7 linked regions of the Homo sapiens genome follow. The protein of the gene in region 3 interacts with the protein of the main gene of each other region in a biochemical or structural test. Each region holds a gene or a part of one and is shown on either strand. Other genes may lie near its edges. The genes, in order: NR1H4, KAT8, SIRT1, CHFR, SATB1, EPAS1 and HIPK2.

Region 1 (5,115 bases), on a different chromosome or scaffold from region 3:
CAATATTTGCAATTTTACTTTGCAATCAAGTTGCATTATATTAGTGTCATCTTATCACCAATTTACAAAGCAGAGAGAGTAGGAATAGTAGATGTTCTTTTATGGCCAAAATTGGAAATGGGCAAACTGAGGGAGAAAATAATTCACTGTGAAGAGCAAAGGGGTTAGGGGATTCCAGAGCAGGGTGAGAGAAGGGAGAGAAAAGACAGAAGGATGAATATTTGTATGTAATAATGATTTTTGCCTCCTCATACAGCTTGGTGACTAAGGACACTCGTATGGTGATGCCTTTTAGCTACATCTTCACTGGTAGAAACTACTGTGACAATAAAAAAATACCTGGGAGGAAAATTGTTCCTATTTCTTATTTTTTAAAAAAAATTTTGAGGTGGTGTCTCTCTATGTTACCCAGGCTAGAGTATAGTGGCATTATCATAGCTCACTGCAGCCTTGAACTCCTGAGCTCAAGCAATCCTTCCACCTCAGCCGCCCGAGCTGCTGGGATCACAGGCACTCATCACTGTATCTAGCTTGTTCCTATTTTCTTTTATTCCCCTTTATAATCTGTGTTGCTAGAGACTAAGATAAAAATGAGACTGAGAGCAAAGGGAAGGGAAATCTCTTTCTATGAAGTAAAGAACCTTTTCTGTCCTTTATGCACCCACCTAATGACAATGTGAGCCTTTGAAAATCTATCACATCATGATATGCATTCTCATGGCATTCATAATCCAGAGACTGTGAGCCACAGCAGTTCTGAGCTCCTCTCTAAGATGTCCCTAATCACAGCAGCATGGAGAGTTCATTGTGGTCTTTAATTAAAACGCTGATAACGGAAATATTCACCCAGCTATCTTAGACTGGTCTCTGGGTTAAAACAAATAGTGCTCCAAACTTTCCAGTTTCCCTACTGATGGTGCAATCTCTCGAAAATGCCCTATGCAGGAGGTTTCAGGAAACGTCTAACTAGTTCCTGGGTTTAACAAATCACCCCTGTCAGGCTGGAATGCTTAACGGCTGGTCCCCCCTCGCCGCTCCCCGATCATTCCCCATTTCAAGTTTTCCCAGCCTCCGCCAATAGCCAATATCAGAGTAGCCAGGAAGAGGCTTTGGAGTCAGAAAGACCCGCCCTCAAGTTCAGGTCCCGCTACTTCCTAACTATCTGCCTGTGGACGGGTCACTTGTATTTTTTGAGTCTCAGTTTTCTCATCTGTAAAATGAGTATAAGAAAAACTCCTGGCTGGGCGCAGTGGCTCACGCCTGTAATCCTAGCACTCTGGGAAGCCGAGGCGGGCGGATCACCTGAGGTCAAGAGTTCGAGACCAGTCTGGCCAACATAGTGAAACCCCGTCTCTACTAAAAATACAAAAAATAGTGGCATGGTGGTGCACGCCTGTAGTACCAGCTACTCAGGAGGCTGAGGCAGGAGAATCGCTTGAACCCGGGAGGTGGAGGCTGCAGTGAGCCGATATAGCGCCACTGCACTCCAGCCTGGGAGACAGAGCGAGACTTTGTCTCAAAAAAATAATAATAAAAAGTAAAGAAAAACTCCCATACAGGGTTTTTGTGAGAAGGAAACAGGCGAATGAAGTAAAGGCTAGGACATGTTAGTAGACATTGTAGAAAAGTTAGCTCCATCACACACTCATACATACACACATTTCTTTTCTTTTCCTTGCAGAGTACAAAGGCCTCACAACCAATGGATATTCCATTGCAATTGGCCCAATCTTGAAGAGGTGGAAACAAGAGGAAGGACAAGGATTCCATGACTTTCCCTCTCCAGCTGTGAGGAGAGGGCAGAGGTACGTGGTGGGAAATTGCTGCAAATCTTGAGGAAGGGTCTCAGGACAAGAGAGCTTTGTCCCTGGCCAGTACTTTATCAGTTAACCAGGAGTTGCATCAGTATTTGTTGCAACATCCTCAGAAAACAGAAAAGTCCACGGTACAAATGGCACAGATCCATAATTTGGAGGACTGGGGGTAGGAACGTAACACAAAGATAAAAGTGTCTATCATTTTATAAAATCACAGCTAGAAACAAAATGGTAGCTCCCTGAACATCTTTTCCTCTCTTCTCCCTTCCTTTTTTTAGGAACAGAAAAAAAAATTTAGATAGATAGATAGATAGATAGATAGATAGATAGGTAAACCACTTTACTGAGGTGTGACTGACATATAAAAGCTTTACATATTCCATGTATACACTTTGATGAGTCTGGGGATAGGCATACACTCATTAAATCATCACCACAATCTATACCATAAACCTATCCATCACCTCCAAAAGTTTCTTCCTGCCTTCTTATTTATCACTAATATTATTTCTAAGGGTTCCTACCCCTCTTGTCAATACTCCTGAAGTGATTCTAAGACAGCACCAGAAACAGCATCAGATTTCTTTATAGCTCAAAGCTCAGGTGTGAGTTTCTTAGAGGAAGAATTCAAGGTGAGTCACTTGTCATTCCCTCCTGCCCCTCCCTTCTGAATAAAAACCCAATTAAAAGAAGTAAGTCAGGCTCCACAGTTGCCCCATTCACTCTGTCAATAAGGAGACAAAGAGGTATCTTATCTATAAATTTAGTCCTTGGACAATTTTATTACTAAAGTTCTTCGTCATACTCACATTTCTATCTTTTAAAAATATTTCCATCTGATATTTCCTGTCATATTAATATTCAAAATGGAAAGCAATAGAAGAGTTTACAACTGAAGTCAAGAAAGAAGACTTTTTCCACCTACTCTTCTTCTAGGGAAAAATTTCATTTCAATTAAGCATAGGTTAAATGTCTTATTCTTAGTTCCCAAGTCATCTGACATTAGCAATACTCCCAAACTCACATCAAGATTTGATAAATCACCAAAATATAGCACACTATACAAGTCAAATTGTTTATGGAATCAGAACGGAGACATTTCTGAAATGCACTATCTCCAGTGATTTACTCAGGTGACCACAATGTTAAAAGAGTATTTCTAAATAAGTTTTCAATAGGTAAGCAACTGTTAAGACTCATTAACTTTTGCTTCTGCTTCTTTTTGTTTTTTAGTTTCTCTCTTTTTTAATTTTCAGGACTTTACATCAAACTCTACTAACTTAGAATTCATTTATTGACATACATTACAGATGTCAAAGAGAAACTTTTAAGTGACTATTTTTTCTCTGTTGCTGTGAGATACACAACCCACTCCCAAAGGAATTAGGTACTTACTTGGATTGTTTTGGGTCAGAGATGGACTTTCAAGGCCCTGGGAGGATTCTGGACTGAGTCTTCCTCTCCAGATCCCAGCGATTTTGCTACAAATGCTCAGAATCCAATTTCGCATTAGGATAAGTCGGGGAGACAATGAGGTGAGGAGGAGGAGAGAGTTCCAGTGTACTGTGCATGATCACAGGCGGCCTTCTGGGCTAGCAGCAGCATCTCTTCCTTGGCTCTGTGCCTCATGGACACAGATTAGTCATTAACAATCCTTCCCTGCTAAATGATATAAACATAGAAAGGAACCTTGGGAGAGCCTCGAGATTCCCAAGACAAAACCGCAAAGCCCCAGAATGAGGAATGTGACAAAACCAAGGAGCCCTGCAGCTTGCCTTTGAAAGCATTTCTCCTCTGGCCGTTTTGTGGGCTCCTGGGCACCCGTATTTCTGTACACATCAACTAAAACCAAACTGTCATCTTCCCTCTCTCTCACTACAACTTCTTTGAATAGCTCTATCACTTCCCCGGGACTGAACTAGAAGCTGGGAGCCTTTTTGACCCTTCCCTCTGCCCAGCCACCCATATCAAATAATAACAGATTTGGGTTGATTGCATCTTTGGAATGTCTCTTATTTCCAACCCACATTGTTCTTCTCCTACTTTGGGCCTATCATAGCTTCCTTTCTGGATGACATTGGTCCCACAACCCCTTTTTCTTCTCTCCCCTTCTTCTGTTTTCCAAATTGCACAGCAGTGTGGAAGCACAGGCTCTGGTTAGATGCCCACTCTTTAGTCACAGCCTTGAGCAAGACACTTAGCCTCTCTGAGTCTCAGTTTCCTCATCTGTAGAATGGATATGGAGAAACCATCTCATGGGCTGTGGTGAGAATTACATGAGTAGTGAAAATGTTTAGAAAAGTGTGTGGCAGATAGCAATCACCCAATAATTTGTGGCAATTATTATTTCTCTCCTTCATTAGTTGAACCATCATTGATTGATTATCAGCCTACTATGTACCCAGCAACTTGCTAGGCACTCCCCTCATCGAAAATCCCCAATGCACTCTCTATGCCTAAAAAACGAACACAAAATGCTTGACATTTAGAACCCCTTCCACACCTGAAGATCTAGCCCTAATGTCTCTAGGATTTTCTCACATTCTGTCCCTTCAGACATCCCAACCTCTGCCAACCTGTACCAAGCTCTCCCGCCTCCACACTTTTGCACAAGCTCTTCCTTCTACCTCAGTTACTTTCTTTTCACACCCACACATCTTCCAGGCGTGGAACAGAAGCAGAGTTCTCCCTGAAGCCAGCCCCATTCCTCATCTGCCCCTATTCTCCCCACCCAACTCCCTTGATCTTTTATTTGTAGTTTCCTTGCTGTCCCTTAAATCCTCTGACCTTATATATTATAGTTTTCTACTTGTTTTATCTCTTTTACAAAAACCAGGCATGGTAGCAGACTTGTCTTTGTATCTACCCTTTGTCTTAGCACAGTGCCTCTCACAGAAAAAGCATTGTGTAACTCTTTGTTAACGCAATCAATGAGTGAGCTGAGAAACAACTTCCCAAAGCAGCATGGCTGCACATGCACCTGTGTGTGTGTGTGTGTGTGTGTGTGTATGTGATGTGTGCATTTCCCATCTGTGATGTGTGTCATTTGTTTCCCGTCACAAGGTCAGCTAGTAGAAGATCTACATTCAAACCTGTTAGAAATGTTATATTTTGCTTCTCTTATAAAATAGCATTTTTGTAGGTCCTACAGGCTCCTACTTCCTACCTACTTCTGGGGGTTCCCAATGTACTATGGTGCATCCTCCAGCCCCTTCGGCACAAGGAAGAGGGTCACCCCAGGCCTGTACATTTTCTTTTGAAGAGAGTTTGCACTGACACTTACTGCACTCTGCAGCTC
Region 2 (4,408 bases), on a different chromosome or scaffold from region 3:
TTCGCTGCCCATATGTTCTCTGCTAGGAGGCACCCAACCCACCACTGCATGCTTTGGAGCAAGTCTCTGCCTCTCTGTTTCCCCCCTCAACACTTCACCTACATCGAGTAATCCTCCCAGCAGCCTTAGGAAAGTGATCCTGCTTTTACAGACCAAGGCCCAGGCACAGAGATCCAAACATCACACAGCACGGTGGGGTTTTGAGTCTCTGTGGGCCTGGCTCTGGAGGGACCCGTCCATGACAATGGCTTCCCTAAACCACACCTATTCGCTTCAGATTCCACACTTCGGGAAGCAGCCCACTGTGTCAGTGATGAGAGCGCCCCTTCCTGACAGCCCCCAATTTCATCCACACTTAAGGTCCCACTGCCAGGGGCTATGTGTGCTTCCTGGGATGGAGCTGGCCTTGGCAAAAGACCTGAAGGGGGTGAGTTACTGTCCCCATTCCAGAGAAGAGGAGCTGAGGTCTGAAGTTGGCAAGGTCACCCTGCCAGCAACAGCAAAGCCAGGCCTGGAATCCAGGCCTCCTGACCCCCAGCAGCTCTTCCCTGTACTCGCTCCTTTGGGCCTGTCTCCTCCCTGGAGCTGCCGGCGCAGCCGCCCTCAGTCTCCATGCCTGCCTCTGCCTCTCACCGGGCCCCTGCCCAGCTCGGCCCGGCCGGCCCAGCCTCACCAAGTGGAAGCGGTAGCTCTTCTCATATTTCATGTACTTGAGGCAGTACTCGCAGAGCCAGAGCTTGGGCTGTTTCCCATAGTCTTCGGGGAATGGTGAGAAATACCAGGCATCAATTTCGTAGTTCCCGATGTGGATCTTGTCCACATACTTCACCTTGGTGATCTGCAGGCAGGGTGGGAGTGAGGCACAGTGCACGGCTCAGCAGGGGCTCCTCGGCAAGGGGAGACGGGGGACCTGCAGGCAGCTTCCCAGCCCCACTTACCGCCTCATGCTCCTTCTCCAAGGCTGCTGTGGTGGGGTCCATCTCTGCATAAGTCTGGGCCAGGAAAGAAAAGTGGGCAGAGGTGAACAGAAGTGGTGACCAGGCTGTCCCTCCCGTCAGGACCCACAAGGCTTCCCTGCCGTCTACCAGACCTCATTCCTGGATGGCAATAATAACCACACCAATAGCTAACCTATCTGACTTGGTTCTGAAGCTGGCTGGTCCAGACTCCTCTCACACCCACCCGCCCCACCCCCGATATCCCAGACATCCCTGATGTCCAAGTTTGGACCTTTTGCCAGATGAACAGGGTTAGGATCAGGATGGGGCTTCAGCTGCACGATGGGGGGCAATCCAGCTCTGCCAAAGTTGTGAGACTCAAATGAAATAACAGATTTGCCTTCCAGGCCCAGCGTAAGAACTGTTACTACCTCCCCGATGTTCCTGGACCCCTTTCCTGAGGACCAGACCCTGCCTGCCCATGCGACTGCCCCAGAGGTCCCTCCCACAGGGACAGCGGACTCAAGATGTGCAGAAAGGACCTCATCACTCCTCCCTGCAAACCTGCGCCTCCTCCTGGGTTGCTCATTTTACTGGGAACATCACCCTTGGTCCCAGTGTCCAAGACCCATAACTAGGCTTGCCTCAGACTACTCTCTCTCCCTCGGCCTGGCCAAGTCCTAATACAGTGGATGTCGAGTCTACTTCTGACATCTCTGGAATTGGGCCCTCTCTGGAATTCTCCTCTCTGTCCTGCTCCAGGTAGTCATGGCCCCATCTCAGGTCTGGACAATTTACTAGGCCGCCTCAGACTCCCTGCCTCCAGCCCCAGCCTCCTCATTGCTATCAGCAGCCCCCTTTTAGCGGCCTTCATGCTTCTGCACAAACAGCTCCTTCTACCTGGAGAATGCCCTTCCTTCTCTCACTGCCAGCAGAAAACACTTCCTCAGCCTGGCACGGAGCATGAGTCAGGTGAGTCCATGATGCTTTGTGATCTATCCTTTGTCACTGTTGTTATTGTGCTCTTTCCCATCCTTCAAGGCTTGAGATTCTTACCACCCCCTCCAGGAGGCCTGACTGGATTCTTCCCATCCAGAAAACATTCCCTCCTTCCCAAGTTCAGCGAGAAGTGGTCAACAGGGCAACACTGTCCAAGTATGCCCACCTGGGTTCCTCTATTTTTCAAGTCCTTAGAAAGCAGAGACTAAGAGTCACACCACACTCACAACACATCCTGCTCCTAGGCCAGACCCTGTGGGAGGAACCCAGTACAGCCTGACAATGGAAGGGGGACCCAAGACGGTCCATGACCTACACCAGGGCAGACAAGGCCCTGCCCTGTAGCTGAGAAGGGAGGAAGGAGCCAGTGCTTTACCCAGAACCCCCTCCACAAAGCACTGTGCCTATATGTTTATATGGCCTCATTTAATCCTTTCAGTAACCCTTACATAGAGTGTTATTTCTTTTTTTTTTTTTTTTTTTTTTGAGACGGAGTCTCACTCTGTTGCTCAGGCTGGAGTACAGTGGCACCATCTCGGCTCACTGCAACCTCCGCCTCCCAGGTTCAAGCAATTCTCCTGCCTCAGCCTCCCAAGTAGCTGGGACTACAGGCACATGCCGCCACATCCAGGTAATTTTTGTATGTTTAGTAGCAATGGAGTTTCGCCATGTTGGCCAGGCTGTTCTCAAACTCCTGACCTCAGGTGATCAACCAGCCTCGCACTCCCAAAGTGCTGAGATTACAGGCGTGAGCCACTGCACCCAGCTGCGTTATTTCAATTTTACAGAGTAGTAAACAGGCAGGGCAAGGTGAGGTCCCTTACCCTCGGGGACTAGTGAGCTGCCATTTATTCCAAGTGGCAAGCACGGCACAGACATGTTTTTTTTTTTTTCTTCTGAGATAGACTCTCACTCTGTCGCCCAGGCTGGAGTGCAGTGGGGAGATCTCAGCTCACCACAACCTCTGCCTTCTGGGCTTAAGTGATTCTCCTACGTCAGCCTCCCAAGTGGCTGAGACTACATGTGCCTGCTACCATTCCCAGCTAATTTATTTTGTTTTTTGAGATGAAATTTTGCTCTTGTTGCCCAGGCTGGAGCAATGGTGCAATCTTGGCTCACTACAACCTCCACCTCCTGAGTTCAAGCGATCTTCCCACCTCAGTGTCCCAAGCAGCTGGGATTACAGGCGCCCACCAGCAAGCCCGGCTAATTTTTTGTATTTTTGGTAGAGATGGGGTTTCACCATGTTGGCCAGGCTGGTCTTGAACTTCTGACCTTCAGATGATCCACCCACCTTGGCCTCTCAAAGTGCTGGGATTACAGGCATGAGCCATAGCCTTTTTTTTTTTTTTTTTTTTGAAATGGAGCCTCGCCCTGTCGCCCAGGCTGGAGTGCAATGGCAAAATCTCACGTCACTGCAACCTCGCCTCCTGGGTTCAAGCGATTCTCCTGCCCCAGCCTCCCAAGTAGCTGGGATTACAGGTGTGCACCATCACACCCAGCTAATTTTTTGTATCTTTAGTAAAGACAGGGTTTCACCATGTTGGCCATGCTGGCCTCCAACTCCTGACCTCGTGGTCTGCCTGCGCCTGGCCTCTTTTTGTATTTTTAGTAGAGACGGGCTTTCACCATATTGGCCAGGCTGATCTCGAACTCCTGACCTCAAATGATCCAATCATCTCAGCTTCCCAGAGTGCTGGGATTACAGGCATGAGCCACTGCACCCAGCCGACATTATTTCATTTTGTTCCTCACAATGAGCCTTTGAAATAAGAGTGCTCATTGTCCCTGTTGTATGAGAGAAAACTGAGGCACAAAGAGGTGAGGTCACTTGCCCAAGGTCACAGAACTGGTACTCAGCAGAGTTGGGCATGGGCCCCTGGTCTGTCCAATTCTGAACCTAACCACTGTAAAGATGAGGAAGAAAGATTTTCCTCCTCACACATCTCTTTAAAACACATTTCCCAATTCTCACAAAATACAGTACTCTTCTGCAAATGCAATAAAGAACTACAAAAACACTACTTTTCTTAATTGTTGCAATTTATTTAGAATTAAACATTAATTAGGCTCTGAAGAACCTTGCTGATTGTTAACTGGATGATTGTTTCATTACCTATTCTTTGATTTTATCACCACTGGCCCGTTATCCACCCTGCTGGTTGCCAACTCAGAGGTATGTCTTTGTTGAGTGCAAAACAGTTGAGGAATTAATCTTAGATCTACACTGTCCAATAAAGTAGCCACTTGTCACATAGGGCTATTTAAAATTATACTCAGCTAAACGTGGTGGCTCACGCCTGTAATCCCAGCACTTTGAGAGGCCGAGGTGGGAGGACCACTTGAGGCCAGGAGTTCCAGACCAGTCTGGCCAACATGGCGAAACCCCATCTCTACTAAAAATAAAAAATAAAAAATAGCTGGGTGTGGTGGCACACGCCTGTAATCTCAGATACTTGGGAGGCTGAGGC
Region 3 (3,235 bases):
ATATTTTAGGTTTATAATCAGAAAAAAGTTAAAATAGTTAATGAAGATGCTTTAAAAGCCTGTGTACTTTAGAGAAGCTACTTAACACAAATTGGGTATCTAATGTAGGCTGGGCTGGATACTTCATTTTCATCAAATCTTTTTAAAATAATTGGTGAAATAACCTTTATTGAATATGGTTTTCTACATTTTTCACACTTCCCTCCTTCATAGGGTTGTGAAAATTTATTTCATATTCTAGATGAGGAAATTGAGGCACAGAGGTACACTTACAAAGATACAATAAATGGCAGAACTAAGATTTGAACCCAGGACTAAGTGTATTGCTTGTATTTATTTAATTAATTAATTTTTAAGAGACAGGGCCTCACTCTGTTGCCTAGGCTGGCCCTTGAACTCCTGGGCTCAAGCAGTCCACCTGCCTCAGCCTCCTGAGTAGCTGGGACTGCAGGCACACCATGCCTCCCAGTTGTTTTTAAACACTAATAGTAGTCTTTCATAAGGACACTTATAATAAAGGCAGAGCTGGAACCCACACTTCATTCCAGACTGCTCAGACTGAGTTAGTGTTAGAAAACTGAAAGTAACATTTTTATTACTGTATTTCAGGTAATCAGTATCTGTTTTTGCCACCAAATCGTTACATTTTCCATGGCGCTGAGGTATATTCAGACTCTGAAGATGACGTCTTATCCTCTAGTTCTTGTGGCAGTAACAGTGATAGTGGGACATGCCAGAGTCCAAGTTTAGAAGAACCCATGGAGGATGAAAGTGAAATTGAAGAATTCTACAATGGCTTAGAAGATGAGCCTGATGTTCCAGAGAGAGCTGGAGGAGCTGGATTTGGGACTGATGGAGATGATCAAGAGGCAATTAATGAAGCTATATCTGTGAAACAGGAAGTAACAGACATGAACTATCCATCAAACAAATCATAGTGTAATAATTGTGCAGGTACAGGAATTGTTCCACCAGCATTAGGAACTTTAGCATGTCAAAATGAATGTTTACTTGTGAACTCGATAGAGCAAGGAAACCAGAAAGGTGTAATATTTATAGGTTGGTAAAATAGATTGTTTTTCATGGATAATTTTTAACTTCATTATTTCTGTACTTGTACAAACTCAACACTAACTTTTTTTTTTTTAAAAAAAAAAAGGTACTAAGTATCTTCAATCAGCTGTTGGTCAAGACTAACTTTCTTTTAAAGGTTCATTTGTATGATAAATTCATATGTGTATATATAATTTTTTTTGTTTTGTCTAGTGAGTTTCAACATTTTTAAAGTTTTCAAAAAGCCATCGGAATGTTAAATTAATGTAAAGGGAACAGCTAATCTAGACCAAAGAATGGTATTTTCACTTTTCTTTGTAACATTGAATGGTTTGAAGTACTCAAAATCTGTTACGCTAAACTTTTGATTCTTTAACACAATTATTTTTAAACACTGGCATTTTCCAAAACTGTGGCAGCTAACTTTTTAAAATCTCAAATGACATGCAGTGTGAGTAGAAGGAAGTCAACAATATGTGGGGAGAGCACTCGGTTGTCTTTACTTTTAAAAGTAATACTTGGTGCTAAGAATTTCAGGATTATTGTATTTACGTTCAAATGAAGATGGCTTTTGTACTTCCTGTGGACATGTAGCAATGTCTATATTGGCTCATAAAACTAACCTGAAAAACAAATAAATGCTTTGGAAATGTTTCAGTTGCTTTAGAAACATTAGTGCCTGCCTGGATCCCCTTAGTTTTGAAATATTTGCCATTGTTGTTTAAATACCTATCACTGTGGTAGAGCTTGCATTGATCTTTTCCACAAGTATTAAACTGCCAAAATGTGAATATGCAAAGCCTTTCTGAATCTATAATAATGGTACTTCTACTGGGGAGAGTGTAATATTTTGGACTGCTGTTTTCCATTAATGAGGAGAGCAACAGGCCCCTGATTATACAGTTCCAAAGTAATAAGATGTTAATTGTAATTCAGCCAGAAAGTACATGTCTCCCATTGGGAGGATTTGGTGTTAAATACCAAACTGCTAGCCCTAGTATTATGGAGATGAACATGATGATGTAACTTGTAATAGCAGAATAGTTAATGAATGAAACTAGTTCTTATAATTTATCTTTATTTAAAAGCTTAGCCTGCCTTAAAACTAGAGATCAACTTTCTCAGCTGCAAAAGCTTCTAGTCTTTCAAGAAGTTCATACTTTATGAAATTGCACAGTAAGCATTTATTTTTCAGACCATTTTTGAACATCACTCCTAAATTAATAAAGTATTCCTCTGTTGCTTTAGTATTTATTACAATAAAAAGGGTTTGAAATATAGCTGTTCTTTATGCATAAAACACCCAGCTAGGACCATTACTGCCAGAGAAAAAAATCGTATTGAATGGCCATTTCCCTACTTATAAGATGTCTCAATCTGAATTTATTTGGCTACACTAAAGAATGCAGTATATTTAGTTTTCCATTTGCATGATGTTTGTGTGCTATAGATGATATTTTAAATTGAAAAGTTTGTTTTAAATTATTTTTACAGTGAAGACTGTTTTCAGCTCTTTTTATATTGTACATAGTCTTTTATGTAATTTACTGGCATATGTTTTGTAGACTGTTTAATGACTGGATATCTTCCTTCAACTTTTGAAATACAAAACCAGTGTTTTTTACTTGTACACTGTTTTAAAGTCTATTAAAATTGTCATTTGACTTTTTTCTGTTAACTTACATTGTTTAAGGTATATAATTTTTAAGTCTTACAGAATTTGTACAGCTTCGAATGCTATAGTATTAGATGCTTTCTTTCTCATACTACATTTCTTCATTTGGTTTATTACATTAGTCTCACCAGACCAGTACTTGCAAAACCCTGATGGTGCTGATCGTAGCAGGTGATGCATCACCACCAAGCATTTCAAAAACTATTTCAGCCATTCTAGGCTAGAGGCCTGAGCAAGTAAAACATGGAGAAAAGGCAGGGCAGGGCCTAAGAAGGATGTGACATGTCCTATGATAAAGGACCAGGAGTTTGGGATTTGAGAGAGAACAGGAAGTGGTGGATAGTGAAAATCCATCTGATGCAAAGGCTGGGTTAACTGAAAATCTGTTCTGGGATGCTAGGTCTTTCAAGTCTGAAGACTGCAGACCACATTTGGTATCAACTTTCTGAGGCTGACCTGAGAACCTACTTAAGCCATTAAAGGTTTTGAGGGCGAAAGTATTACTGA
Region 4 (4,408 bases), on a different chromosome or scaffold from region 3:
TCAGGTGATCCAACTGCCTCAGCCTCCCAAAGTGCTGGGATTACAGGTGTGAGCCACCGCGCCCGGGCTGATAATAATGTTTTTTTCAACAGACGCATATACGATAGGAGTCCCACAAGATTAAAATATCATATTTTTACTGCACCTGTTCTGTGTTTAGATAAATACTCTTACCATTGTGTTACAACTGCCTATAGCATTCAGTACAGTAGCACGCTGTATAGGTTGATAGCCTAGGAGCAATCGGCTATACCATATAGCCTAGGTATGTAGTAGGCTACACCATCTAGGTTTGTTTAAGTATACTCCATGATGTTTGCAAGATGATCAAATTGTCTGACACATTTCTCAGACTGGATCCCTGTTGCTAAGGGACACATGACTGTGCTGTTATAAAAATGAGCCGCTGTTATCACACTAAAGACAGCATTTCTTCTCCTCCTCAGCCGTGGCACACAGCACAGAGCACGAAGTCAGGCTTCTTAAGCTACAAGAAGAAACACCAAAAGAAGCTCAGAACATACTCACCTGGTATCTTCCAGTGTCACCTGACCTGATTTTTCATCCACTACAATTCTACAGTGATCTCCAGAGACCAGTTTATTGCTGGGGAAGGAAAGGTCGCAACCTAAAAAAGAGAGGGTGGGTCAACACGGGATATGATCGTGGTAACTGTGAACACTACTGCACTTTGTTTACCAAAGTATGTGGTTCCAACTCAGGATCCCCATTGTACATATGTAAAAAAAAACACTTGACCAAGAAAGACATAAAGAAATTTTTTTTTTTTTCTTGAGACGGAGTCTCGCTCTGTCGCCCAGGCTGGAGTGCAGTGGCACCATCTCGGCTCACTGCAAGCTCCGCCTCCCAGGTTCACACCATTCTCCTGCCTCAGCCTCCAGAGTAGCTGGGACTGCAGGCGCCCGCCATCACGCCTGGCTAATTTTTTGTGTTTTTAGTAGAGACGGGGTTTCACCATGTTAGCCAGGATGGTCTCGATCTTTTGACCTCATGATCTGCCCACCTTGGCCTCCCAAAGTGCTGAGATTACAGGCGTGAGCCACCGCGCCCGGCCCATCCTGAACCTTTCTGAATCCCCACCCTCTCAAAGACACCCATCAATACCTCCAGTTACACACAGCCTCTTAAATGGCAATTTTACAGCCAGGCGCAGTGGCTCATACTTGTAAACCCAGCACTTTGAGAAGCTGAGGTGAATGGATCACGAGGTCAGGAGTTCGAGACCAGCCTGGCCAACACAGTGAAACCCCATATCTACTAAAAATACAAAAATTAGCTGGGCATGGTGGCGGTTGCCTATAATCCCAGCTACTTGGGAGGCTGAGGCAGGAGAATCGCATGAACCCAGGAGGCAGAGGTTGCAGTGAGCTGAGATCGCGCCACTGCACTCCAGCCTTGGCGACAGAGCTAGACTCCAACTGGAAATAAAAAAAAAAAAAAGCAATTTTACAATATGCTTGCATACACAGCTAACCTGATGAGTATTATTAGAACTTTAAAAAAACTCAGGGGGTTGGCTAGGTCCGGTGGCTCACACCGAGGCGGGCAGATCACAAGGTCAGGAGATCGAGACCATCCTGGCTAACACAGTGAAACCCCATCTCTACTAAAAATACAAAAAATTAGCCGGGCGTGGTGGCGGGCGCCTTGTAATCCCAGCTACTCAGGAGGATGAGGCAGGAGAATGGCGAGAACCCGGGAGGAGGAGCTTGCAGTGAGCCGATATGGCGCCACTGCACTCCAGCCTGGGTGACAGAGCAAGACTCTGTCTCAAAAAAAAAAAAAGAAAAAAAAAAACTCAGGGGCTTAAGTAATTCTTCAGTATCTTAATTTAGTCCTTAATTTCTTTTCTGTGTAAACTTAGGTTTCATAAATCAACATAAAATTGAAGCAATGACAGTCACAGAAAAAGTGACTGAGCCAACTGTGATAGGCATTTGTTTTTTTTTTTGTTTTTGTTTGTTTTTTTTTTTTTGAGATGGAGTCTCGCACTGTCGCCCAGGCTGGAGTGCAGTGGCACCATCTCGGCTCACCACAACCTCCACCTCCCAGGTTCAAGCCATTCTCCTGCCTCAGCCTCCTGAGCAGCTGGGACTACAGGCATGCGCCACCATACCCAGCTAATTTTTTGTATTTTTAGTAGAGACGGGGTTTCACCATGCTGGTCTTGAACTCCTGACCTCTTGATCCACCCGCCTCAGCCTCCCAAAGTGTTGGGATTACAGGCTTGAGCCACCGCACCTGGCCTGCGATAGGCATTTGTACACGTATAAGAAACTGCATCTTATATACAGGGATGCATCTATAGCTGAATACAGTAATTCTGACACTTTGGGATTTTTTTTTTCTTTTTTTTTTTTTGAGACGGAGTCTCTTTCTGTGGCCCAGGCTGGAGTGCAGTGGCACGATCTCAGCTCACTGCAACCTCTGCCTCCCGGGTTCAAGCGATTCTCCTGCCTCAGCCTCCTGAGTAGCTGGGATTACAGGCGCACACCACCAGGGCCAGTTAATTTTTGTATTTTTAGTAGAGATGAGGTTTCACAATGTTGGCCAGGATGGTCTCGATCTCTTGACCTCGTGATATGCCCGCCTCGGCTTCTCAAAGTGCTGGGATTACAGGCGTGAGCCACCAGCGCCCGGCCCTGAATACAAAAGCAAGAGGGAAAATCCTCAATACTTGCCCTCTCCTTAAATCAAAAGAACAAAGGCGTTTTAATATCTCATCATTAATCATTACTGCCTATAATAATCTATAAGGATACATAAAGATACTAGAAGACAAAAAAGCGAAGGGTTTGGTCAGGAGACAGTGGCATGCAAACATACTTTTCCTAAACGTTCCACACAGAAAGACACCCTGAATCTGCTTTAGCCTGAGCCTTGCTCCCATCACTGACCTATGGGTGTGTGAATCAGAAGACTCAGTATTGTTAAAATGTCAGCTGTCCTCCAGATTGTTTCATACATTCAATGCAATTCCAGTCAAAATCCCAGAGGGCTTGTAGACACTGACAAGCTGATTCTAAAGTTCACAGAAAAAACGTGTAGAAAAACCAAAGCAATTTTGAAAAAGAATGAAGCTGGAAGACTCATATTACTTAACTGACTTACCATCATGCTATAGTAAACAATACAGTATTGTGGCTGTGTAAGGATGGCCAGACAGAGACAAATGTAAAATCTAAAACTATGAAACTTCCAGTGGAAAAGACAGGCAAAAATCTTAGTGCCGTTGGGTCTTGCATGGACTTCGCAGATAGGATATAAAAAGCACAAACCAGGAAAAAATAATAATAATAAGCTGAGGTTTGTCAAAAGTAAAATGTGGGCCAGGTGCCGTGGCTCACACCTGTAATCCCAGCACTTTGGGAGGCCAAGGGGGGGGCGGATCACAAGGTCAGGAGATCGAGACCATCCTGGCTAACATGGTGAAACCACGTCTCTACCAAAACTACAAAAAATTAGCTGGGCGTGATGGCGGGCGCCTGTAGTCCCAGCTACTCAGGAGGCTGAGGCAGAAGAATGGCGTGAACCCAGGAGGTGGAGCTTGCAGTGAGCCAAGATGGTGCCACTGCACTCCAGCCTGGGCAACAGAGCAAGACTCCGACTCAAAAAAAGAAAAAAAAAGTCAATTCTGGGCCAGGCGTGGTGGCTCACACCTGTAATCTCAGCACGTTGGGAGGCCGAGGCGGGCGGATCACAAGGTCAGGAGTTCAAGACCAGCCTGACCAACATGGTGAAACCCAGTCTCTACTAAAAATACAAAACTTAGCCAGGCATGGTGGCGGGCGCCTATAATCCCAGCTACACGGGAGGCTAAGGCAGGAGAATGGTGGGAACCCAGGAAGCGGAGGTTACAGTGAGCCGAGATCACGCCACTGCACTCCAGCCTGGGCGACAGAGCGAGACTCTGGCTCAACAACAACAAAAAAAGTAAGGCTGGGGGCGGTGGTTCACGCCTATAATCCCATCACTTTGGGTGGCCAAGGCGGGCGGATCACTTCAGACCAGGACTTCGAGACCAGCCTGGCCAACAGGATGAGACCCCATCTCGACTAAAAATACAAAAAATTAGCCGGGCATGGTAGCATGCACCTGTAATCCCAGCTACTTGAGAGGCTGAGGTGGGAGAACATGGGAGGTGGAGGTTGCAGTGAGCTGAGATCGTGCCACTGCACTCCAGCCTGGCAACAGAGCGAGACTCCATCTCAAAAAAAAAAAAAAGTAAAAATCTGTTCTTCAAAGATATTGTTTAAAAAGATGAAAAGACAAGCTATGGACTGGTGGAAATATTTGTAAAACACATATCTGACAAAGATCTTGTATCCAGAATGTATAGAGAACTCTGATAACTCAATAAATAGAAAGTAAATAATGCAACTTAAAA
Region 5 (4,408 bases), on a different chromosome or scaffold from region 3:
AATATTTACTATCTGGTCGATAACAGAATAAAGTTTGCTGATGCCTGGTCTAGACAATGAATTTGGAAGACAATAGCATGAGGGAGCGCACACAGCTTACAAATATTTTATGTTAATAAGTCATATAATATTTTTTCAAAATGGCTGCTTAGAATTAAGTGGATTATTGCTTCCAAGGTGTTAACAACAACAAACAACAACAACAACAACAACGCTGCAGTAGAACTTTAAGAGGGAACATTTATATACCTAAGTTTGATATGGGTAGTAACAACATAAATGGAAAAGACAATAGGCTAGAAGCCTGGAATCCTGCCAATAGCCTTGACTGAGTCATGAAACTTTTCTTAACCATCTACTATAGCTTATGATTCCATTATATAAAAGCATAAGTAATGCCAGTTTAAAGTACGTTTGACATTTAATTAGTCTTTCAAAGGCCCTGAATTGGGATCAATCTGCACATAGGTTCCCTTGATTCAGAAGTATATCATAGGAAAAGGAGTGGTAAAATTGAGGCTCCACCAGGAATAGGTAATATGATCACATGAAGAGAGAGAGAAAATGTTAGTACAGAAGTAAAAGAATAAACTTTAGTTATAGATGGGACTAAAGAAAGAGAAAATAGGAGACAGCACAGAACCACTTATGAAACACAACTGACCTGAGTTCTGTTAAAAGCCACACGTGCAAATACCGCCTGGGAGATTCCTGCTCGTTTCAGTTCATCGCGTACCCACTGGTAGATTTCGGAAGACACCTCTGTGTTGGTCGAAACCTGTTGCTCCAAAGGCTTATTCATAGATCTACTGACAGGGGGAGGGTGGTTCAAGTATTGTTGGTTTAAGGACTGCTGGGCTAAAAGTCTATTCACTGCATACTGCTGGTTCAGCAGCTGAGCCATCACCAGCTGCTGGTTGACCAATTGAGGACTGATAGGTGTTGATACGAGCCCAGGGTGCAGGTTTGGAAGAGGTGTCCGGACAGAGGGCTGGCTGCCATGGGAGAGCTGCGCAGGGGATGGAGGCTGCTCGGCTGTGTTCCCTGGAACTGGTTGCTGGCCAAAATTGACATGATTGGCGCCTTGCTGGGATAGCTCAGAAAGACTATCCATTTCAACTAAAGTGGACAAAGAGTAAAATCACATTCAGCCAACAATGATTGGCATTGATAAAGATTTCTAACCATTTCCTAAATTAAAAAAGGGTAGGCACAGGGCACACCCCAAATCCAATAAAACCAAGAAAATTTCAAGTTGCAACTTACCAGGCTGTGTTTTTGCTCTCCTTTCCTGAACAATTCTACAAACTTTGGAAATGGGACAGCATTCCTAATCTTATTTTTAAAAAGTGGTTTAGATTTAAGGCATAAAATCAATTATTACCCAAACTCTTTCCAACTAGTTGTTCACTCTCACTTATTACCCCAAGAAGGCTTCTAAGCAACAATTTTTAAAAATGGCTTCTAAAAGAATGTCATTTGCTTAATGACAACTACAAACAGTGAGCTGAGCTGAGAAAATAAGCTTATAATAAGCAACTAAAAAAATTTACAAATATATTCTCATGATATTCATTAACTTTAGTACTCTAGGAAAAAGGTGTAAAAGAAAAAATATGACATAAAAAGTCACCTACTTTCAATTTTTACCCAGCAGTGAATAGAAGTAGTTAATGTAATAAATAAAAATGGGCATAATAATAAGTGTATATTGAACACTTGCTGAATATCTTATATGCCTTGCTTCATTTTAATTCTAACCATCATGGGCAGTAGGTATATCTGGAAATACTTTTTAGAATAAAGCAAGTGATTTATTGTATATCAAGCCAGCATACCCAGTGTTGCTAAGATCCAAATGTTTTTTCTTCAGGAAGCTATGGCCATCACCAGATGCTAAAGACAATCTTGCAGGGAATCGTTCTGGTACAATGGTGAGGCTGTCATGATTTTGCAATTTATTCCCACCTACCCAGGATGAATGCTTCTTCCTTGGCTAGGTTCCTCATATGGATTGGCTGAGCATCATCTCTAAGTATGTAAATGCTTTTCTGTACGAAGAGGAGACTGGTTCGATGCTCTTGGCTGGAAGGGCTGAGCATGAAGCTGTACATAAACAGGACTTTCCAAATTGTACACAGACTTCCCACATGTAGACTCTAGTTTGATTTTAATCATCAATTCTCTTTTCATTAAATATGCAGGTTTTACATTTAGAGGAACTTTATCATAGCGCTATAGCTCCTGATATACGCAAAATATAACTAAGAATTGGGGAAGAAATCTTCAATTTCTACCAGTGATATCAGCCCAAGTGGGCCATTCACAGAGAACAGTAATTCAAGCAATTATTCCAAAAATGATGCATTGTCTTCATTACAGCCTTAAGCTATAAAAGGCAAAGAATCCATTTTGGTAGATGGATGGTTTTTCTTCAAATATTAAGAGCTAAAACTTGCTCAAAATTTGGATTAATTTTTCTTAAAAAATTAAAAAAAAATTAAATGAATGTAAAGAAATAAATAGAAATAGATTTAAAACAGGACATAATGCCCATTCCTATATTATTTTAAAATATATGTTTTGGAGGGTAAAAGTAGGTGAAAGAGAACAGTAATAAAAATTAAAACATTAACCTTAATCACAGTGTTTGCTTTTGTGAACATTAACAAACTCAACAGAGAGAAAATGCCATCATCTAAATGCTTAGGTACCATACACAACTTTTATCTATCATTTTACACTGCAGATAATTTTAGTGTACTTCTTGCATAACAAATATTCACCTAAAGTTATGTGTTAAGATAGAATGCTACCTTGGAATTAAAAGTTCAGAAATGATGCAATAATTGTTCTGGTATGGATGGTAAAGCAATGTGCTTATCAAAGTGCCCATCCATGGCGGCTGGGGGTTAGAGCTATAAAAATCACTTGATCTCTACTGTGGAAACTATAAATAGTTTAATTTAAGAAGTTTAATTTCCTTTAAAATTGGGTGTAAAAATAGGCACTTTCTCATTCAACCAGACAAAAACAAAAAACCTAAAAGCAAGACTTATCAGAGAAAGAAATCACAGCTAATATTAGTTATTCAAGGCCTGGTTAGGTCTTCACTGAGTTGTTAAAAAATGACAGCTCCCCTCCCAACGCCTCAATTTCCTGCATGTCTGACAACCAAGTCAGTTTGGCTGATTTAAACACAAACATTTATTGAATTTAATTATCTCATTATACTCATACCCACTTCCCACCCCCAAAGAAACATTCTAAATTGATCTCTAATTGGGCAATCAAAAGACCTGGCTTTAGATGTGACTTTGATAAACCCCCAAATGACACGTAATGGTATGTAGCCACTGCTGCAATGTTTTTTTTGCTTACCCATCATATCTTTTGTCTTCTTGAAATGTTTGTACCACCTTCCAAATTCTTGACATTTTGCTGCTGAGACATTTGCATAGTAAGTACTGTTCACAATGGAAGAAATCATACTCTGCATGAAGAAGGGGGGAGAATATTTGTAATACACAGCAGCACAAGATGGAACACAGAAATGATCTCAATTGTGGCAACTGTATTTTTTTAATCAACTGAGTACCAATACATTTTGGTTTCACACTTTAGCCTAAAGCTTCGACTTCTTAATATTCATTAAGTAGATCATCAAATGCTTATTTAAGTAGAAAGCAACAGCCCACTGAGACCAGTATAAAGCTATCAAACCCACAGACTTTGCTCTAGCATTCATTGAATCTCCATCAATGCCATCTATTACTAGGCTGTCAAACTCACTGGTCCCAATAAATCCAAATACATGAAGATGACTTTATAATTGTGACTCATAAATATACGAGACTTCGCGATTTTTTGACTGGACTCTACATCTTTTCTACTCAAAGTATAGACCAGGGACCAGCAATATGGGCATCACTTGGAAGCTTGTTAGAAATGCAGAATCTTGGGCCCTACCCCAGACCAGTGCACTTAGCAGCTGAATTTTACCAAGATCCCAGGGGATTCACATGTATATTAAAATTTGAGAAACAGAACTTGCACTTTCCACTCTATTATTTGGATTTAAAGTGGACGCGCATTAACACTGATCAAAGGTTAACTGACCGTATTTGAGAAGAAACAAACTATTCACAGAGATCCTCTATCAAGAGAAAAACATTCTGCAATCTTATTACTGGCTTCATCAATAGTAAAGCTTAAGTTTTGAATTTCAAACCGATCATAAAAATTTTAAATTTATACATTTCATGCTTCTAAATTTCTCAAGGATACCACAAAAAGATGACCTATCGTGACTTATCTTTATCCTGCTTTTAATAAATGCCCGGAAAACTGTCAGCCCTTTAACATACAAAAATGAAGAAAAACATGATTTTAATGAATCACTAGGAGG
Region 6 (4,408 bases), on a different chromosome or scaffold from region 3:
GGTGATTAGTTTAAAAAAGAAACGAGAAGGGCTCTGCGAGGGAGACGCCACAAACCAAGCTTGGAAAGCAAAATCATTTTTGTTTCTCTTTGGCAACAACAATAACGAGGAATCTTTTTAGTAAAATGAAGCTAAAGCTTCTCCCTACAGAAGAACAGACATGCACCAAACTTGTTAGTATGGACAGTTGTGTGTGAGAAGGAGAAGGAGGGAGAGAAACCTATGGATAATATAAATTAGAAGTCATTGAAGGTGGGGAGGAAAAAAATCCTACAAAATTTAAGAACATTTCAGAACAGGTAAAACAATTGTGTACTTTAAAAATAGGGATAATAAAGTGAGCATCTCAGAAAAAGGCCACTGCTTGGTGACCTGGGCAAGTCTGCCAGGTAAGTCCATCTTGTAAATAGTGTGCTGGCGTTAGAAATACCTAGTTGCAAAAACAGACGGAGAGAGTGAAGCTGGTGGGACGGCGTCGGCAGAGGTGCTGCCCAGGTAGAAGGCCTGGCTCAGGTGGCCTGGTCCAGGGCTCTGAGGAGGTCCCCTCCTTGCAGGAGCGTGGAGCTTCCCAGCACGGGCACGTTCACCTCACAGTCATATCTGGTCAGTTCGGGCAGCAGGTAGGACTCAAATGAGGGCCCGAGCAGCCGGCTTGCCATGCCTGAAAGAAGGGTTGGTACCATAACTTAAAGGCCTAAATCGAACATTTGGAAAAGTGTCTACTTCTTTGTGACTGGGGGATACCAATAGAGCAGCCCTAATTTCACTCTGCTCCTTCAGTGGTGTCTGTCCCACGGCCTGCTGCATGCCCGGGGAACGTGTCTGCCTCCAGAACCACTGCCTCAGGTGGGGTGCTGAGACCCAAGAAAGAGGAAAGCGTGAGGTGCGGGCTGCAGCACAGGTATGTGGAAGCTTCAGGAAGAGCCTGGGGTTGCTGACCCCCATGCCTCCTGGCAGCAGGGAGGAAAGGCTGAACCACCTGGCACCTATGCTCACATACACAGAACATGCAGAACACACACATACATACAGATGCAAACACAGACTGCCTCAAGATTCAACAGTCTGAAAATCCAGTTTCTGGTCACCACCCTCAGCAGTCCTTTCTTCTTGCCTCTGTGCTATTCTCTTGCCGAGGAGGCAGACCAGGGAGTGGCAGGGGGGACACTCGCAGCACACACACAGGCCCCCATCCCAAGGAGGAAAGGCTTAGGTGGCAGCAGAGAGCCTGGAAGCCCTGCATTCTGCCCCTCCGATGGGAGATGCCCACCCACCTTCCCTTATCTGCAGAGCCTCGTTCCAGTGGCCATTGCCTCCTGCACCTCCTAGCTCAGATCCTTGCTGGGGTCCATGCCTGCCTCCCCAGCTTGACTGCTCCTGTGGACAGTATCAATGGATACCTGCTCACCATCCCTTGCTAACTTCTCTTATTCATGGTCAGAAAAGAGTTTGATATGATTCAACTCTTTTGAAAAGAATATGATTTTCCCTTGATTTCAATATTCAAGGTAATTCGTGGGCTTCACATAACAGGAAGAATAGTGCTGGCTACCTCTTACTGCACATAAATATATACCAGCCCCTGAACTCAACAGCAGAGCCAGAATTTAAGCCAGGGCTGTCTGGTGTTTCTACAGCCTGGACTCTGAAGCACAGAACTATAACCTTCCCCAAACTCTATTGCTGAGGAAATTGCCTTTTAGAACAGGGGCCTGGTATGTTTTTCCATAAACCACGAATTATTTTCAGGCCAAACAAACCTCATGAAGACATATATGTTTCACAAGATACTGTCAAGATGAAGGTGGCCCAGGGTTGAAGGCAGGCATTGGTGCCTGCAGTTGAACCAAGTCCAGTGGGGTGGGCCTACCAGAGCTTTCCAGGCTGTTCTACCTGAAGGAAGTTTTGGCATGTTCTCAGCACCTGCCTGAACTCAGAGTGACACCCCAAAACACATCCACATGAAGAACTGAGGAAGGGGCAAGGCTCCGGGATTCTCAGGGTGGAAAGAGCCCTGGATGGCACCTGATCATGGGAGGGTTCTCCCTAAAGCCCCAGGGAAGGAGCACTCCCTTCTCCACGCAGCAAGCTCATCCTTGCATAGACGGGAGATCCCCTGCCTCTGCCCAGACCGCTTCCCAACTCTCTCTCTCTGAACTTTCTCTTCTCTTCTTCAACAGGCCCTCACCACTGTGGCCGCCTGCTCTTTCTTCTGAAAGTGCTCCTGTCAACAGTGGTACAGTGTTCTGGGGGTCGCCAACCCAGTGTTCAGTGTTCAGTCCTCTTTGGGCAGTCGGTAGTGGTCTGCATTCTTTCCTTCAGTATTCTAGCCTGAGTTTGAGTTTTTTAGCTGTGTCTCAGACCCACCCACTGGGGGGCCTGATCACTGATGTCACAAGGAACTTGTGAGGAGGTTCCCTAAATCCAAGGAGACCTGAGCCCTGTATAGGTGACTTCAAGTCAAGCACCTCCCTGTGCCTGGCACTGTGCAGACGCTGGAAAAAAAGTAGACGTGGGCTTCCCCTGGCATCGAATCCTGGGATGGGGGTGACAGATCCTGGGCACACCCACCTGACACCTTGTGGGCTGACGACAGGCTGTAGTCCTGGTACTGGGTGGCGTAGCACTGTGGGGGGAACCTGCTCTTGCTGTTCTCCCCGGGACTGATGGCAGATGGAGGCTGTGGCAGCGGCAGATGTCTCAGGGGATGGCCCAGGCCCCTCATGGGGTTTTGGGTGAACTTATCTGAAAGACCAAAGTCAGAGAGTGACGGTAGCATTGGCCTGAGGGAGGGGAGAGGCCAGGAAGCCCTAGCATCCCTTTCCTTTATAAAAGGTGCTCAGAGTCACCAGAACTACAGCCAACCTTCAGGACCCTCTGATGGCATCATCTAAGTCAGAGTGGAGATGGAAAAGTTGGGTGTGTGGGACTGCGGGAGAGACAGAGGACATCGCCCCATTCTAACAAGGCTCAGAGAGGCAGGTACGGCCTGTGGTGAATGGAAGAACCAGGATGGGCTCCCGAGCCCCAGTCCTTCCACCAGAACCCCCAGGAGGCCCAGGCCTGTGGCCGCTGCTCACCATTGGGTACATTTGCGCTCAGTGGCTTGTCCGGCATCAAAGGGCAGCTCCCACCCCTGAGGTTCTTCATCCGTTTCCACATCAAATGTGAGGTGCTGCCACCAGGTGGGTCCCCCTGGGAGTAAGAAGGGCAGATGGAAAGGGGAAATGGCCAGAGAACCAGGTCCCCAGACTGGGTGGGTTGGGTGGGCCTGGAACAGGGCTGGCACTTGCTGGCTTGGAAGGGCCACATCCCCACCCCTCTCAGCAGCCCTGGGTTCCCTAAGGGCTATGCTGGCTTGGAAGGGCCACATCCCCACCCCTCTCAGCAGCCCTGGGTTCCCTAAGGGCTATGGAGAGGCCCCTGTGGCCAGTGGGGATGACTCACCCCGCTCAGGTCCTGGAAGGCTTGCTCTTCATACTCCAGCTGTCGCTTCAGCTTCAGCTTGTTGGAGAGGGCTACCATGGCCGGACTCAGCACGTCTGGGCCTCGAGCCCCAAAACCCTTTGCAGACCTGCCAAGCCCGAGAGAGCAGGCTATGAGGGAGTCTGGAGCCACATGCCACTCAGTGCCTTCTCATCTTAGGGGCCCTTCCAGTCCCAATGCTGATGCCTGTGATGACTCAAAGACCCAAAAGGCAGAGTCTCAGAGGCAGGCTGTGCACCTGCAGGCCGAGCTCGAGCTCTGTCTCCTTCCTCAGCTATAAGATGCTGAAGGGCTCAAGCCTCCTGGTCTGGGGGATGGCTGCCTGGCTGGGCAATGTTAGTCCTTAGGAGGGTTTCTTCTGCCCATGTCTCTCCTCTGCCTTTTGCTCCCACTGAAAACTAGTTTGGCTGCTCTATAAAGGGCAAGTACCAGCGGCCCCTGGGAGTGGCAGGTCATGTACCAACCCCTGTGCCTTAGCCCAGTGAGCTCGCAGCTGGTGAAATGAGCATGCTGGGGAGATGGGAAGGCATTTCTGGAGCCTAGGCACAGCTGGGAGAGGCTGCAGTGGCGAGGACCCGGGGGCAGCCAAAAGGCAAGGGGAGGCAGGGGTATCTTTTTGCTGTTTTCAACCAGGGAAAATCATCACTCAATTTTCTGTGTGGCTCAGATGATGAACCGAGATACGAAAGGCACTCTGGTGGTGGTCCGAAGGGAGACACTGAGGTACAGGGCTCTCAACAAGCCACTTCTTTGCCTGCCCTCAGTGGCAGCCCAGATAAAAACCCATCCTACACTAGGCCTCACATGGCTTGAGGTGATTCCCCAAAGTCTGAGCTCAGAGAAGGGCTAAATGGGGTATCAGATGGCTGGGGAGAGGGGCAGGGGCCTCCCTGGGGGTCCAGCTATCTTACTAGTGGGTGCC
Region 7 (4,408 bases), on a different chromosome or scaffold from region 3:
TAATTTTTTATGTTCAATTTTTGGGTCCTGGTAACAGTCCTACGTGTTTCAAAAAACTCTAGACAAGAATATTTTGAATAATCCAGAGTAGAAACCAAAAAAAATCTATATATTTTAATCACTGATTACCCTTTGCCTGAATGGCATGTCTTTTTGTTTGTGTTTTTTTCTGAGAGTGGAGTTTAACATTTGGTCTTATTTGTAGTTTACTGGTTCTGCTGATAATGGAAATACCCCAGTACCAATTTATTGCTTGCTCAAAAAAAAAACAAAAAAACTAAAAACAAACAAAATGAACTGGCATCAATGTAGAATTAAATAACAAAAGGGCAGGGGCGCCCAAGGTGAAGTAATACAAGCAAGGATTACCTGCAACTCTGTTCTTTTGGGTGTCAACACCTGAAAGGTGACACCATTAAGAAAATCCCTCTGTCCTTCAGAATAGTGTTTCTCAAAGACTGGTCCTAAGACCCCCTGCCTGGCTCACCTCCAGTTCTCTGAGGCAAGTCTCTGTGGTGGTGGGTGTGGACTTTCTCCCAGGGTACTCCCAGGGAGACTCTGTTCCCAGCAACCTCTCCAGGAGATTCCTGTGCACAGTAAAGCCTGAGAACCTGGGCAGCTGACAGTTAATGACATAACTGACCTTCGAATTGGAAGGGAATACCCCTGCTTCAGACTCGAGAAAAAAACTTAAAAAGCAGCCTTTGTTTCCTGAAAAACACACCAGTGGGCTTGCCTCACAGAATACCAACAGCCACTGTGGCCAGGCACATGCCTGAGAGCTGGGGAAAACAGTTGGCTCCGGGGACACCACCTCCTTTTCCAAGTCCCCAAGGCGAGGATAACATATCCTTGTCTCACACCGTTTCTGTGTCACTAGGTGGGGACAATGGTGGGATGAGACACTTAGCCCAGTCCCATGCAAAATGACAGAGGGACACATAAGTACTCTACCTTTTGAAAGTCAGATGTCCTGGGACGATAATGTGCCCAGCTCAGATACAGGGGGCCGAGGGGAGAAAGTCCCCACCCACCACCTGCAGGACAAAGGCCAACCTGCTGGGAGGCTGGATGCACAGCATGCAATGACTCCTCCAGCCCAGGCGGCTCAAACACACAGCCATTCCCTCACGATGCAGATGCAGCTGAAAGCATCTGAAAGCGTCTTCTTTCTGGGACATGGGCCTTAACGATGGACAATTAAAGAGCTTTTCTTGCCCCCTTTCTTTCCTATAAGAGGCAAAGCCACCAGGAAAATCAACTTGATAAACATGGCCTAGAGCTGGCTGTCCCACACAGCTGGGACGAAAAGAGACAGAGCACTAGAGACTGTCCTCGAAAAATCGGATCGATCTATATGGTGGCAAACCACTGCAGGGCTCAGACAAGGCCTGAGGGAGAAACAGAACATTGCACCAACTTAGAAATGAAGCCTCATTTCAGGCAGAAGAGCCGCTGTCTTTCCTGCTGACCGTATTTTTGGAACCAGGGCTGGGCACAGGGAGGCTGACATGAGGGCCTGAAGGTGACCACAGAAAGGAGAAAGAGGCCTTCTTGCTCAGAATTTTAGGCAATGGTGATTTCAGGGGTGAAAAGAGGGTACTATCACAACTAAACGGAGGGTCCTTCAGAGGGATGTGGGGACACAGGGGCCAGATGTGACTGTGCCTGTCACGAAGTGGGGAAAAGAGGGCTCCTGAGGGCCCAGGAACCGCCAGCAAACCAGCCTACCACACCCACCAGAGGCGTCCAAAAGGCCTGATCTCACCCACAGAGGGGGGCAGGAGAGGATCGCTGTGAGTCCAGGTGAAGGAGTCAGCCCTCCCCAACCCTCACAGGCAAACTTTTACTGCTGCCGCAGGCTTCCTGAGCTAGGATCCCCGATTTTGCGACCTGTCTCCTCAGCACTAGGGGCACCAGCACCAGGCAGGAAAGCAAAGAAAAACTCGCAGAGTCCAAGGGGATGGGCAGGGAGGGCTCCAGGAAGCGTCACATGGGCACCAGAAGGCAAGATGACAAGGGGGTCTTAAGAATCCCCAATTCAGCTTACTCGATTCACCAAGTTTCGCTCTAAGGATGTGCTGCCTTTTAAACAGAGTTTGTCGAAGTCTTTTTACAAGTCGCCATGCTAGCTTTCAGTGAATGTTAATAACACTGGTACGTGTTCATGATGCAGCAATTCAGATGAACTACATAAAAGCCCTAGCAGCCAAGTCAGGGGCTGTTCACCCTGAATTCAGGCCAAGAACTAGAAAGAGCCAGCCTTTGGCATGCTGAATTTACCAACCTAAATACGAAGTGGCACAGCAGCCTCCCAGAGCCAGCACAGCACCAGCTAGCCCCCAATGGGGCTGGTACCCGGGACGGCCACCAGAGCTGGCTTTCAGAGGCCCAGGCACTCTCTACAGAGAATATGTGCTGTCGGTACCGGGCACCCAACCCTCCAGATTCACTCAACCATTGCCCATCCTTCTCCTCTGGAGACAAGGAGAGGCTTCTTGTCTTCCTTGGAGGCTCCTGCCCTGGGCTTACTTCTCCCTGCCATTGGCTCTGGGGCCAGCGGGGCACAGAGTGGATGGCCTGGTCAGGACGAGGGAGTGGAGAGCAAGTGGAGGGGCAGCAGTAGACCCGTCTGTCCGCACGGGGCCTGGTGGTGAAAGCACAGGCCTGTGGAGACCTTTCTGCGCATAGGAAATGAGCGGGAAAGGAATCCTCAGGGCAGGGCAGAGAAGAGGCTCGCAGAGAGCTGTTCTAACTCAGGAAATGCCTCCTAAAGGGAAGAGGGAAGAGACAGAAACAGCATGGGTGAAGAGGCCTCGAAACCTCCTGTGTGAGTCAGGATTAGGATGAAAGGAGACGGGGTGGAAGGTGGGAGGGCATCTGGGGATCCGAACGGAGGGGCTGTTGCTCTCCCAGGGAAGGAGGGCCTGGTGCCCAGCAGGCTGAGGGAGGGGCTGGGAGGAGACTTGCAACAGCTCTGCCTGCAGCCAGGATGGGGGCCCGGACAGGGAGCAAGAAGGGGAAGCTGGCCCAGGTCAGCCCCAGGAATGGGTGACAGGTCAGCTGTGTCGACAAGGCCCTGGGGCATGTTCCAGCCTTCTCTCTGTGGCCTTGAAAGGCGCATGGAGAAAGCACACGGGCAAGCGAGCGTGCTTGCTTGCAAGCAGGATGGCCTCCGGGGACCCCGGTCTTCCTGCCTACGTGGCACGCTCTTAAATGTGCATCCGTCCCATCTTCTCATGGGAGTTTCAGTTTTGTTTCTTGTGACCTCTATCTCCACTGCACTGTTCGGCACCACCCCAAACACACCCCCAGGCTGGTTCCACAGAGCAGGGTCTTGCTTTCCATCCCTGCCGCCTCCCCGCTGTGCACCCGCCATGGCCAGCCACGGAGTGACACACCTAAGCCATGTTACAGCCATGTTACCTCCCAGCTGCCCACGAGGCTGGTGAGAGGATTTCTCCCACTTCATGGGTTAGGAAATGAAGGCATGGAGAAATCAGGCCATTAGGAGAGGAGGGACCAGGTTCACTCTGGCCTTTCCTGACTCCAAAGCCAGCACTCCGATCTCAGCTCCATGTCGGCAGCGGTTCCAATCCTGACTGCATACAGGGGTCCCTGAAAAGCTTCCAGATACCCCAGGATGGCAAGGGCCCTGTCTATATCCCTATACCTAGCACTGCGGCTGGCACATATTAAAAGTGAAATCAAAGCTTGTTGAATGACTGCATGTGTGAGTCCATGACTGAACACACTTCCCTGCCACGGACACTATCATTCCTCCCTCATCCTGACCCAAAGCCTGAAGTCACCTTACCACAGGAGCCACCCAGCTGGCCCCAGACTAGTCTCTCCCTTCCTCCAGCCCTTCTGCACGTGGATAGACAAGGAACCTTCTCGGAACATCCCTTTCAACCCGTTACCTTATGTTGTTCAAGGTTTCCAGGGCTTGCTCTGGGTTTGAGGATACAGTTGCAATTCCTTGATCTGATATTTAAGACCCCCAGTGACCTGGTTCCAACCAGGCTTTCACTCACATCTCCCACCACTCACAAACTGTTCTGGCCAGGCGGGTGTCCTTCTTGTCTCCTGTAAATTCCCACTAGTGTGACTGCGGACTGTGGATGGCACATCCCTCTCTCTCCACCACCTGTCTGGATCCTACCCATCCGGGAGGACGGAACTCTTCTGCTCTGCACCCCAGGTCCCAGGGAGCCCTTCCAACGCTGAACACCTGTGCCACGGATCTTACCTGGCTCCGTTCTAATGTGACTTCTAATTGACATCGCAATGTGCACATGTCCTAATTTCGTAAGTACATTAAGATCACTTGAAGGCAGGAACTGTAGACATATAATTTTATCTCCCCACAGTGACTAAGGTGGCACATTCTCTGTGAGTGCCACTG

What was found.
Region 1: the proteins of SIRT1 (region 3) and NR1H4 form a complex in vitro, tested with the Homo sapiens proteins (one study listed by BioGRID).
Region 2: the proteins of SIRT1 (region 3) and KAT8 form a complex in vitro, tested with the Homo sapiens proteins (one study listed by BioGRID).
Region 4: the proteins of SIRT1 (region 3) and CHFR form a complex in vitro, tested with the Homo sapiens proteins (one study listed by BioGRID).
Region 5: of the proteins of SIRT1 (region 3) and SATB1, one has a biochemical effect on the other in vitro, tested with the Homo sapiens proteins (one study listed by BioGRID).
Region 6: of the proteins of SIRT1 (region 3) and EPAS1, one has a biochemical effect on the other in vitro, tested with the Homo sapiens proteins (one study listed by BioGRID).
Region 7: the proteins of SIRT1 (region 3) and HIPK2 form a complex in vitro, tested with the Homo sapiens proteins (one study listed by BioGRID).

What each region holds. Positions count from the first base shown.
Region 1 is NC_000012.12:100,472,157-100,477,271, reverse strand, and holds the start of NR1H4 (bile acid receptor), read right to left. Parts: upstream 3,407-5,115; 5' UTR 3,213-3,406; intron 1-3,212. UniProt on the Homo sapiens protein: Ligand-activated transcription factor. Receptor for bile acids (BAs) such as chenodeoxycholic acid (CDCA), lithocholic acid, deoxycholic acid (DCA) and allocholic acid (ACA).
Region 2 is NC_000016.10:31,123,619-31,128,026, reverse strand, and holds part of KAT8 (histone acetyltransferase KAT8), read right to left. Parts: intron 993-4,408; coding exon 939-992; intron 839-938; coding exon 674-838; intron 1-673.
Region 3 is NC_000010.11:67,915,656-67,918,890, forward strand, and holds the end of SIRT1 (NAD-dependent protein deacetylase sirtuin-1), read left to right. Parts: intron 1-609; coding exon 610-938; 3' UTR 939-2,735; downstream 2,736-3,235. UniProt on the Homo sapiens protein: NAD-dependent protein deacetylase that links transcriptional regulation directly to intracellular energetics and participates in the coordination of several separated cellular functions such as cell cycle, response to DNA damage, metabolism, apoptosis and autophagy.
Region 4 is NC_000012.12:132,877,027-132,881,434, forward strand, and holds part of CHFR (E3 ubiquitin-protein ligase CHFR), read right to left. Parts: intron 629-4,408; coding exon 529-628; intron 1-528. UniProt on the Homo sapiens protein: E3 ubiquitin-protein ligase that functions in the antephase checkpoint by actively delaying passage into mitosis in response to microtubule poisons.
Region 5 is NC_000003.12:18,393,798-18,398,205, forward strand, and holds part of SATB1 (DNA-binding protein SATB1), read right to left. Parts: intron 3,494-4,408; coding exon 3,382-3,493; intron 1,120-3,381; coding exon 665-1,119; intron 1-664. UniProt on the Homo sapiens protein: Crucial silencing factor contributing to the initiation of X inactivation mediated by Xist RNA that occurs during embryogenesis and in lymphoma.
Region 6 is NC_000002.12:46,380,762-46,385,169, reverse strand, and holds part of EPAS1 (endothelial PAS domain-containing protein 1), read right to left. Parts: intron 3,575-4,408; coding exon 3,448-3,574; intron 3,196-3,447; coding exon 3,081-3,195; intron 2,746-3,080; coding exon 2,572-2,745; intron 662-2,571; coding exon 510-661; 3' UTR 1-509.
Region 7 is NC_000007.14:139,711,485-139,715,892, forward strand, and holds part of HIPK2 (homeodomain-interacting protein kinase 2), read right to left. Parts: intron 1-4,408.